Linked DNA regions of Homo sapiens: region 2 is linked to region 1. Evidence: fine-mapped expression QTL. A gene starts in region 1. The other region holds a variant in brackets. All regions are shown on one strand. Distances are between the middles of the regions.

What was found.
Region 2: its variant is fine-mapped to the expression of MORN1 in pituitary (GTEx, PIP 0.96).

The regions. Positions count from the first base shown.
Region 1 is chr1:2,388,710-2,394,068 of GRCh38, reverse strand. It overlaps MORN1 (MORN repeat containing 1), which reads left to right and starts at 2,515. Exons shown (of 14, transcript NM_024848.3): 1 at 2,515-2,611; 2 at 4,073-4,144. The coding sequence starts at 2,536. It overlaps RER1 (retention in endoplasmic reticulum sorting receptor 1), which reads right to left and starts at 2,228. Exons shown (of 7, transcript NM_007033.5): 1 at 2,111-2,228. RefSeq lists silencers at 1,943-2,242, 2,343-2,452, 2,583-2,652, 2,813-2,942, 5,269-5,359 and enhancers at 1,484-2,356, 2,225-2,519.
Region 2 is chr1:2,281,886-2,287,244 of GRCh38, reverse strand. The region is part of intron 1 of SKI (SKI proto-oncogene); the gene reads right to left. Among named protein-coding and RNA genes, the nearest start is that of SKI, 56 kb to the right of the region's middle. RefSeq lists enhancers at 2,055-2,723, 3,394-4,063. The variant A/C (reference allele first, on the strand shown) is at 2,316.

The DNA of each region.
Region 1 (5,359 bases):
CATTGTTCGTCCTATAGCTCCTTGTAAGTTTCCCCGTTTTACTCAGACTGTTTCCCATTAAAGCACTTTTACTGGACTGGAGGTGATGAGAGTAATGTCAGGGAGAAAATACCCAGCTCTCCCGCCAAAGGGTGTTCTCTAGGCAAAGCTCAGAACTTCTCACTCTCCAACTGAACATGTAGAAAACCTACTCAAAACGCCATCAGCCAATCCTGCTTGTCTGACACACACAACACGTATACCAAACACACACGTATACCAAACACAGCTTGCACCCTGACTGAACGCATTGCCAGGAATAGCCTGAGGCAGGGCGGCAGGAGCAAGAACGTGAACTTTGGACTCCAACAGCCTGCTTTCAGATCCTGGCTCTACCACTCTCTGCCAGTGTGACTAGGACAGGCTATTCCAGGATGCCTCAGGTTCCAGTCTGTGAAATGGGACAACAGCACCTCTCATGCCTTCTCCACAAGGCTCTCGTGAGGAATCAGTGGGCAGCCCGTGGAGCACCCTTGGAGCCGGGCAAGGCAGTGCCAGCCCTGTTCCTGGATCAGGGCCAGCCCTCACACCAGCTGCCCCCTCTGCAGTCCTCTTCTCTGCTCAGTTTGAAGCCCACCTCCTCTTCACAGGCCTCCGTTACCGCCCACACTGACCCCCAGTCCCTTACATCACATCACCCTATTTTTATTTTGTGTACAACTGTTTCCTGATACCTTTCTGGTTTACTTCTCAATTTTCTCCTGCTAGAATGAAGCTCCTTGAGGGGTCCCTTGTCTGGTTCGGGGCTGGGCCCTGCCACCTGGAAGTCCATTACATAGTAGACAGCCCATCAATTACCTGTTGAAGGTGACTGCTTTATGCCTGGTCACAAACAAAACAGAAAGGGAGATAAAACCAGTCCAAGCAGAGACCATGAGGACGTGCCAGAAAGTGTAAGACTCTCTATGTGCCTTGTTCCAGGCCCGTCACATTCATCCACATCTGTGGTCCATCACTCTGCACGTGGAAAGGATGAAGTCCTCTGCCTGGCGTCCGGGAGCATTGACAGTCTGGCTCCCACCTTTCTCTTCACGTCCCCATCCCCAATTCCTCCGGGACTAAGAAAGCCCCCGGCTGCCGTGCACCAAGCTTCACGCCTCTGGTGTTGTTCAGTCCTCTGAAATGCCCTCCCAGACCCCGTCTCTTCCTCCTTCCCAAGGCCACATTCCAGCCTGGGCTCCCCGCTCCTCTGGGCCTGACCATCTTATATCTCCACCTGGCTCTGACACACTGTTACCGCCGTCGCCGTCACCTCAGGCATACGGCAGAAGCCATGTGAGAGTCTGAATTACTGAGAACCCTTTATCCACTTACGGGGATAACTGCATCTTCCTGGGAAATGTCAACTCAACTAAAAATAAAGTGCTTCCAGGACTAGCGGCCAGTCTCTACTCTTCATAAAGGGAAAAGGGCAAAAGCCCACTGAAGGTACTTAGGCTGAAAGCAGCCCTCTGTGCTGTGAGACACCTGGCAGAGAAACGAACGATACCTTTATCAGTGGGGCCACAGACCAGTACTAAGTCAGCCTGGAGAATTTATGATTTTATTGCCTATTTAGAATACGATCAAAACCGATGTAACTAGTTTCCCTTCAGCCCGTCAGTAACGCCTTCACCCCAGAGCTTAACACTAAATCCTACAGATAAGCGCTGACCTGGACGCAGGATGGGGACAGGGCACATTACTCTGGAATACAGCCCAACTCGCAGCGCTGTGGGGGCCGCGACTGCCCGCTTCCCCCAGATGCCAAGCAGGGGATGCGGACGAGATGCGGCCCGGGTGGCTCGAGGGCTGCAGCCCCCGCCCGGCCCCTCTCCCGCTCCCCCGACCCTCGCAGGCCCCAGGGCTCCGCCGCACCCCCCAGCACCCCGTCCCGGGCCCGACCCCGAGGCGCGACCCGTACCCCTCAGGGCCGCGGGTCGGGAACACGGTCCCCGCGGCCACCCGGGCCCCGACGGCCCTCCCCGCCCGGCCCTCAGCGCGGCCCCGCCCGCCCGCGGCCTTGACAGCCCGGAAGAAGCGGAGGCGGCGCTGCCCGGCCGTTCCCGCGCCACGCAGCCCTTCCTGGCACCTCGCAGCTCCGCTACGGCCGAGCCGCGGTCTCCCTCACGGCCGCGGGAAGGAGGACGGCGGGGCACGGGCGGCCGCAGGCGCTGCGCTCCGGCTCCGGGAAGCTGCAGCGAGCACTTCCGCTCCGTCCTCCGCGGCGCCGCCTCCAGGGCCCCCAAGATGGCGCGAGGGCGGGGCCAAGGGCTCCAACCATTTCCGCTTCCGGCGCAGACGCGCAGGCCGTTGGCGGGCGGGCCTCCCGGCGGAAGAGACGACAGCGGCGGAAACGCGCACAGGCGCAGCTGCGTCCTCTGGCTCCGGGCCCGGCTAGCTTCGCTCCAGAGATTGCGCGGGCTCAGGGACTAGGCCCGTGGCCACACCCCCCCTTGCGACAAAGACCAATGGAAGCGGGCGTTGCTGGTCGCTAAGAGAACCCTCGGCGGCAAGATGGCAGCGGCGGGCGAGGGCACCCCGAGCTCCCGCGGGCCGCGTCGGGACCCGCCTAGGCGGCCGCCCCGGAACGGTAACGACTGCGGGCCACGGGACAGGTCGCTGGCTGCCCTGGGCTCCATTCAGGGTGCGATCGCTCTACGCCCTCGACCCCCAAATGCTCACCTCGGAAAGTAGAGGTCCAGGTGCCGCGGCGGAGCCAGGGCCGCCCCCGCGTCCCCCACTCCCACAGGACTCGCCGTGCGCCTCGGGCTCGGCTCGCACCCTTCCCCGAGCCCTCCTCCCGCAGCAGGCCAAGCCCTGCAGGGGGTCGCCCCCCGCGGGCTCCTAGCCGGGAAGACCGGGTTCCGGCCGCAGCCTCACAGCCAGCGGGACCTGGGGTTGCCATGGGGATCCCGAAGCCCAGGACTTGGGGCGAGGGCAGGCGCAGGAGCAGCACCAAGCCTCCTGACTTCCTGGCCGGTGCTGTCCAGAAACGCTAGGACGCGTTTCAAAAGCAGTTTTTGCCTGTACTTCCAGCACTTTGGGAGGCCGAGGCGGGTGGATCACCTGAGGTCAGGAGTTCGAGACCAGTGTGGCCAACATGGCGAAACCCGGTCTCTACTAAAAAATACAAAAATTGGCCCGGGGTGGTGCCTCCTGTAGTTCCAGCTACTCGGGAGGCTGAGGCAGGAGAATCGCTTGAACCCAGGAAGCGGAGGTTGCAGAGAGCCGAGATCGCGCCGCTGCACCCCAGCCTGGGCGACAGAGCAAGACTCAGTCTCAAAAAAAAAAAAAAGAGCAGGTTTTGATAGGAACTGTTTCTAGAATCAAATAAACGGGTCTGGAATGAACTCAGAGCTAACACTACTATCTTCAGGTAGAACCTGACCCTGATTTGGGACAGATACAGTAGCCTGTAGTAACCCCCTGCCCTCCTCCCCGACATTTTCCCATAAACCCTGCCCACAAAATGTGCCTGAGGAGCTGGTAGGGAGGGAGCCCTGCCCATTCCTGGAACTGCAGGAGTTGGCGGGTGGCACACCCAGCAACTAGGAGGAGATGAAGCCGGCCAGGCCATCCTTGGGTATGAGTGTGGATTTTCTCCCCAGCGATAGGAGGCCACTGAAGGGCCACGGCAGGGGATGGGAGAGTCTGCTCCTCCCCTGTGTGCCTCACTGACACTGCCGCTCTGCCTTCCCCTGGCTCACTCATCTCCTGCAACAAGGCTCCCAACCTGCTCCTCACCACCTCCCGAGCACCTCTGGTCTCTCAAGGACCTGCAGTTGTTTCAAGCCAGCCCTCCTCTTACTGGGCCTGTCTTCTCTGCACCAAGTAGGTCCTCATCCTTGTCACATAAACAAATGAGCAAATGAATGGCCCAACAGTCGACAGGAGAGCTCATGAGCCCCACAGGTCGCCTCTGGTCTGCTGAAGGTGACGTGTACCAACCCCTTGAAGGCCCTCAAGGGAGCTGCACTCCCTCCTTCAGCACTGGAGAGCATCCCTCATCTCTGTGTCTGTGCTTACCTGTGTGTGTCTTCTCAATACTCAGGTTATGGTGTCTACGTATACCCAAATTCCTTCTTTCGATATGAAGGAGAATGGAAAGCAGGGAGGAAGCACGGTGAGAAGCATCTGTGGTCTCTTCTTGCAGCTGCTGCCCCACAGCTGACGAAACCAGTTTCTCCCCGGGAGGTTGGGTGGGCAAGTGGCATTTCCTGTAGCTTTCGAGCCCATTGTACCCTGGTGCTTCCCTGGCTGCTCAGGGTAAGGCTGGATGGGCAGGGGAAACAGAGGCCTGGGAGACCCCCCTGGAGGGCCACCTTTAGCAAAGGAAGCTGCGACTTTGAAATTCTCCCTAGAGGTTGAGTTCATTTGTCTTTTCCAGACTGAAAACTGGCTTTATGGTTTATTTCCTATTATAAAGAGAACCTACTCTTGTAGTAAATCCAAGTAATAGAAGAAAGAAAGTGTAAAGTCAAGCCAAGCGCAGTGGCTCACGCCTGTAATCCCAGTACTTTGGGAGGCCAAGGTGGGCGGATCACTTGAGGTCAGGAGTTCCAGAACAGCCTGACCAGCATGCTGAAACCCTGACCCTACTAAAAAGACAATAATAGCTGGTTGTGGTAAGGCACACCTGTAATCCTAGCTACTTGGCAGGCTGAGCCAGGAGAATCCCTTGAACACAGGAGGCAGAGGTTGCAGTCAGCTGAGATTGTGCCACTGCACTCCAGCCTGGGTGACAGACTGAGACTCCGTCTCAAAACAGAACAAAAAAAGCAAGTATAAAGTCGATAACACCTGTACCCCCACCAACCCCAGGCAAGTGCCGTGAACCTTTGGTGGTGTGGACGTTCCCGCCACTGTACTCCTCTCACGCAGTTTTGTATCTGCTCTCTGCCAGTTTTGTTTCTTTTTTCTTTTTTTTTTTTTTTGGAGACAGAGTTTTGCTCTTGTTGCCCAGGCTGGAGTGCAATGCTGCCATCTCGGCTCACTGCAACCTCCGGCTCCCAGGTTCAAGTGATTCTCCTGCCTCAGCCTCATGAGTAGCTGGGATTACAGGCACCTGCCACCACGCCCAGCTAATTTTTGTATTTTTAGTAGAGATGCAGTTTTGCCATGTTGGCCTGGCTGGTCTCGAACTCCTGACCTCAGGTGATCTGCCCACCTCAACCTCCCAAAGTGCTGAGATTACAGGCATGAGCCACTGCGCCCAGCCACTCTGCCTAGTTTTCTTCTCTCTCTCTCTTTTTTTTTTTTTTTTTTTTTTTTTGAGACAGTCTTGCTCTGTCGCCCAGGCTGGAGTGCAGTGATGCAATCATGGCTCTCTGCAGCCTCA
Region 2 (5,359 bases), 110 kb after region 1:
GCCTCCACCTTCCCACACAAAATGGCAGTCTCCAGGCGCCCTGGAGCCCCGCACGGCCCAGGGTCCAGAGCACAGGTGCACCCTGGGCCAGGGCACCCCGGGCGGGAGGGTGCGCAGGGGCCCTCTAGATTTTCGCCCAGAGCTGGCTGCTGTGGGGCCTGCAGCTGGACACTCACGGCTGGACCACCGGGTCTGGGAAGAAAACGCCCTCCACTCGTTACTTTTCCATCCAGAGCTGGCTTTGTGGGCACGCAGCCATGTCCTGGGCTTAACGCTCTGTCCCCATCATTGGCATTCTGAACAGTTTCACCTTTGATAAGATGTTCTTTTATAAGCAAAGTTCTCCGTGACCACAGAGCATGCATGAGCAGAGGTGGCACACGCCACATGCAAGCCCACTGCCATTCCCAGCCCGTGTAAAGAGCGTCCAGTGGAGGAGGTCGCGTTGGTCCCACCCAGTCACTTTCTCCCACTAGCCCACGACCGGAGCCTTGGGAGGGAGGGAGACAGGCGCCCACAGCCCCCACACGCAGTCTGTCCTCACTCAGAGCGAGAGCTGCGTGGCCACATGGGTGAGTTAAGCGAACTCCAACAGCCAGGTTCATTTTGGGCAGCGTTTGCCCTGATGTGGTAAGAATAAAATGCACACGCACTTTAATTATTATATTTGGGGTTCAAATCAAGAACTGTGCAATTTTGATGATTCCACAAGTTAAACACTCTTACATTTGCATTTTATGATTTTTTAAAGAGACAAGGTCTCACTCTGTCACCCAGGCTGAGTGCGGTAGCATCATCATAGTTCACTGCAATCTCTGCCTCCCAGGCTGCTCAAGTGATCCTCCCCTCTCAGCCTCTAGAGTAGCTGGGCCTACAGGCACACTACCACACCCAGCTAATTTTTGTATTTTTGTAGAGATGGGGTTTCTCCATGTTGCCCAGGCTGGTCTCCTGGGCTCAAGTGATCTGCCCACCTTGTCCTTCCAAAGCACTGGAATGACAGGAGTGAGCCACTGCACCCGACCTGCATTTGCGTCTTAAACTGGCATTACACAAGGTAAAGATGAACAGTAGGCTGGGCGTGGTGGCCCATGCCTGTAATCCCAGCACTTTGGGAGGCCAAGGTGGGTGGACGACGAGGTCAGGAGTTCAAGACTAGCCTGGCCAATGTGGTGAAACCCCATCTCTACTAAAAATACAAAAATTAGCCGGGTGTGGCAGTGCGTGCCTGTAGTCCCAGCTACTCGGGAGGCTGAGGCAGGAGAATGGCGTGAACCGGGGAGGCAGAGCTTGCAGTGAGCCGAGATCGTGCCACTGTGCTCCAGCCTGGGCAACAGTGCGAGACTCCGTTTCAAAAAAAAAAAAAAAAAAAAACCTTCTGGCTGGTGCGGTGGCTCACGCCTGTAATCCCAGCACTTTAGGAGGTCCAGATGAGCAGATCATGTGAGGTCAGGTGTTCGAGACCATCCTGGCCAACATGGTAAAAACCCCCATCTCTGCTACAAATACAAAAATTGGCTGGGCATGGTGGCGGGCACCTGTAATCCCAGCTACTAGGGAGGCTGAGGCAGAGAACTGCCTGAACCCGGGAGGCGGAGGTTGTAGTGAGCTGAGATCACGCCACTGCACTCCAGCCTGGGTGACAGAGCAAGATTCCGTCTCAAAAAAAAAACAAAAACAACAAAACAAAACTTTCAAAGGAAGAGTTGTTTGTTTATTGTTTGTTTTTGAGACAGACTTTTGCTTTTGTCACCCAGGCTGGAGTGCAGTGGCACGATCTCAGCTCACTGCAACCTCCGCCTCCCAGGTTCAAGCAATTCTCCTGCCTCAGCCTCCCTAGTAGCTGGGATTACAGGCACCCGCCACCACGCTCAGCTAATTTTTTTGTATTTTCAGTAGAGATTGGGTTTCACCATGTTGGCCATGCTGGTCTTGAACTCCTGACCTCAGGTGATCCAGCCGCCTCGGCCTCCCAAAGTGCTGGGATTCCAGGTGTGAGCCACTGCGACCGGCCTGGAAGAATCTAAGTCCATTTGTTAACACCTTCCAAATGCATGTCAAAAAGGCAGCTGACGTCAGGGCAGATGGAAATTTACTAGACAGATGGGGACAAGTCCACACGGCCACACCAACTGCCGCATGACACCTATCTCCAACCCAGACTCTGACCCTGGCCACGACTGCCCCCAGCCTCCAGATACCCTGGTGGCCCAAACACGAAATCATAAAACTTTAGCAAGAACAAAAAGGCTTTTCTGTCCTGTTAATTTACAAAATAAAACCACTTATGAATTCTGATCATCAGAAAGGCCCGC[A/C]TGGTGCACCTGTGCTGTGTGTGGCACCAAAACCACCTCCACACTGCACTGCGGAGCAGGGTCAGACCCTCAGTGAGAGCACCCACTCTCACTCTCCAGCCACCGGGGCCCCCAGCACAGGCCAAGGTGGGCCCCCGTGTCCACCTGTCATTCTTACAGCCACGCCGGCCATCCACCCCTCCCTGACTCTTCCCTGCCTGGAGCCCTCCCAGCCACCCAGGGGCCAGGGAGGGCTCATAGGCCGGTGTGGGGCGGGAGGGAGCCGCCGCAAGAGGCCCATGCAGTCACAGGAGGTCCACACGGACAGCGGGCCCTCTGGGCCGGTGTGAGCTTGAATTCTACCACCCCCACACCACTGGGGTGAGCCCACTGGGGAAGGGTCCCTGCCCCCCCAGGCACCTCAGCTGCATCTGCCCTGCTCCACAGAACAGGGACAAATCTCTTCCAGACAATCTCTACTTCACACGGAGCTGCCGTTGCCCAATTAGGTTTTAGGTTTCCATGAGATAACTGTTACAAAAGAGGTCTGAGGGCAGCTCCGCCTCTACTGTGCTGACCCAGGCCAGGTCACCTGAACCTCCAAGAGGCTCTTCTCAGGCCGCCTCGGGGTGGGAGAGGAGGGAACTCAACCCTACCAGGACGTCTCGGCAGCATGGGTCCAGGGATCAGGGATCTAGAGGCAGGGCAGCAACCTGAGGGAGCCCCGGCCAGTGGAACGGGGAGGACGCTGTGTTGGGGCCAGAGCCCCCCAGGGCCGGCCTCTGGGGCCTCTGATGCAGCTGTGACACCCAAGAGGGGAGGTCCATGTGGACAGGAGATGGACCCCAAGCCCCGGGCATTCATGGACGGGGGATGGCCCGGAGGACAGGGTCTCCATGAGTTGGGGAGGGTCTGGGTCTGGGGAGAAGATGGCACGGGCACTGCACCTGCTAACAGGGCACTAGCTGCGGGCAGACAGCAGCTCTGGAGGGAAACAAGCACCTCCCCGCCTCCTGCAGGAAGGGGACGCCACAGTGGCCCCCACCCGCCAGCGGGTCAGCTTTGCTGCCTCGGCCTCCCGCCTCCTCCAGCCCCAGCAGACGCCCACGATGTTTTCTCGCCATGAAAACCGACACAACATGGTGCCAGGCCTCAGTTCTAGTGGACGGGCCTCCCGTACCCTTGGGGCAGCTTCGAACCAGAGCAGTGCTGCCTGGACTTCCGGGCCATGGGCAGCAGGGCTGCACCCCAGCACCCCACATGCACTTGAGGGGCAGCTCCCTGAAGCCCCCTGGGCTGGATGGCCCCTCGTGGTACCCAAAGCCACAAGCCTGTCCTGAACATGGAGACACAGAGACCCCAAGCCAAGGCCCAGGCCTGCAGTACAACATCTGAGCAGGGGAAGCGGCCACCAAATCCACAGCGACAGCACGATGGCTTTGGTCCTGGCCCCGGCCCACATGGTTGCAGGAGAATCACAGGGCCCTCCCTAGAAAGCCAACACCTCTCCAAGACTCTGTCCTCAAAAGGCGATGCTTGCCACCTCCTCACCCCCATTTTCACAGAGACATACTCCTCAGGAGGCCCTGCCCTCCCCCCCCTGAGGCTCTGAGTCCTTGCCCTGTCAAAGGACCTGGACAGGCCCTGGGCCAGCAACAAGAGCTCCGTGCTGGGGAGACTGAGTGAGGCCTGGCGCAGAAGTGGGGAGAAGTGTTCAACTGTAAGCAGACAGCCTCACCCATAGGAGGGGCGCACCGGCACCCTCGGAACCCAGCCTGGGACCCAGCCTCCGCACAAAGCCTCTCAGGATCCCCGACAAAGGCGGTTGGGCCGGGTGGGGGCGCCTCCCTGGCCATGGCGTGGGGTCATTCCCACGGGATCCTCCCTAGTCAGCCAAGATGCCTGCGCCCCCACAGCCACAGGAGCTGCTGGCAGATGAGGGTCCGAGACTGGCTCCCGTCTCCCAGCACCGGCAAGGGAAGCGGGCCAGGTGCACACAGGACCCCAGCCTCCTCTTCAGTGTACACAGTGGCTCAGCTTAGGGCACAGGAGGAGCTCACTGAGGTCACTGGGCCCACACCGGGGTGACAGGTCGGAGGCTGAGAACCAGACCCACCCTTGCGAATGTCACTAGTAGCATGTGCTGGGCGCCAAGGACAGGACTGGCGCCCCCGAGAGCCGGTGTCCCTGGAAACCGCTCCTTGACGGGGAGCCCAGCCTCCTGACCTTTTCCTGGGTGGGGGTAAAGGGTGACCAGCAGCCCCTACCCAGGCCCTATCATGAGGGTGGAGGGCTGGGAGCCAGCGGGCTTGGGGGAAGCAAGGCTTTCCATGGGTTCGGAGGCCCTGCCCTGGTGCCACACAAGCCGAAATACTGCCCACCCGCCCACTATGGAACTCTGGGCTTTCTTTCTGAAGATCTCCGCCACTGCCTGTCTTCTCAGGCGTCCTCTCTCTGAAGATCTCCACCACCGCCTGTCTTCTCAGGCGTCCTCTCTCTGAAGATCTCCGCCACCGCCTGTCTTCTCGGGCATCCTCTCTCTGAAGATCTCCGCCACCGCCTGTCTTCTCGGGCGTCCTCTCTCTGAAGATCTCCGCCACCGCCTGTCTTCTCGGGCGTCCTCTCTCTGAAGATCTCCGCCACCGCCTGTCTTCTCAGGCGTCCTCTCTCTGAAGATCTCCGCCACCGCCTGTCTTCTCGGGCGTCCTCTCTCTGAAGATCTCCGCCACCGCCTGTCTTCTCAGGCGTCCTCTCTCTGAAGATCTCCGCCACCGCCTGTCTTCTCGGGCGTCCTCTCTCTGAAGATCTCCGCCACCGCCTGTCTTCTCGGGCATCTCTCTCTCTGAAGATCTCCGCCACCGCCTGTCTTCTCGGGCGTCCTCTCTCTGAAGATCTCCGCCACCGCCTGTCTTCTCGGGCGTCCTCTCTCTGAAGATCTCCGCCACCGCCTGTCTTCTCGGGCGTCCTCTCTCTGAAGATCTCCGCCACCGCCTGTCTTCTCAGGCGTCCTCTCTCTGAAGATCTCCGCCACCGCCTGTCCTCTCGGGCGTCCTCTCTCTGAAGAT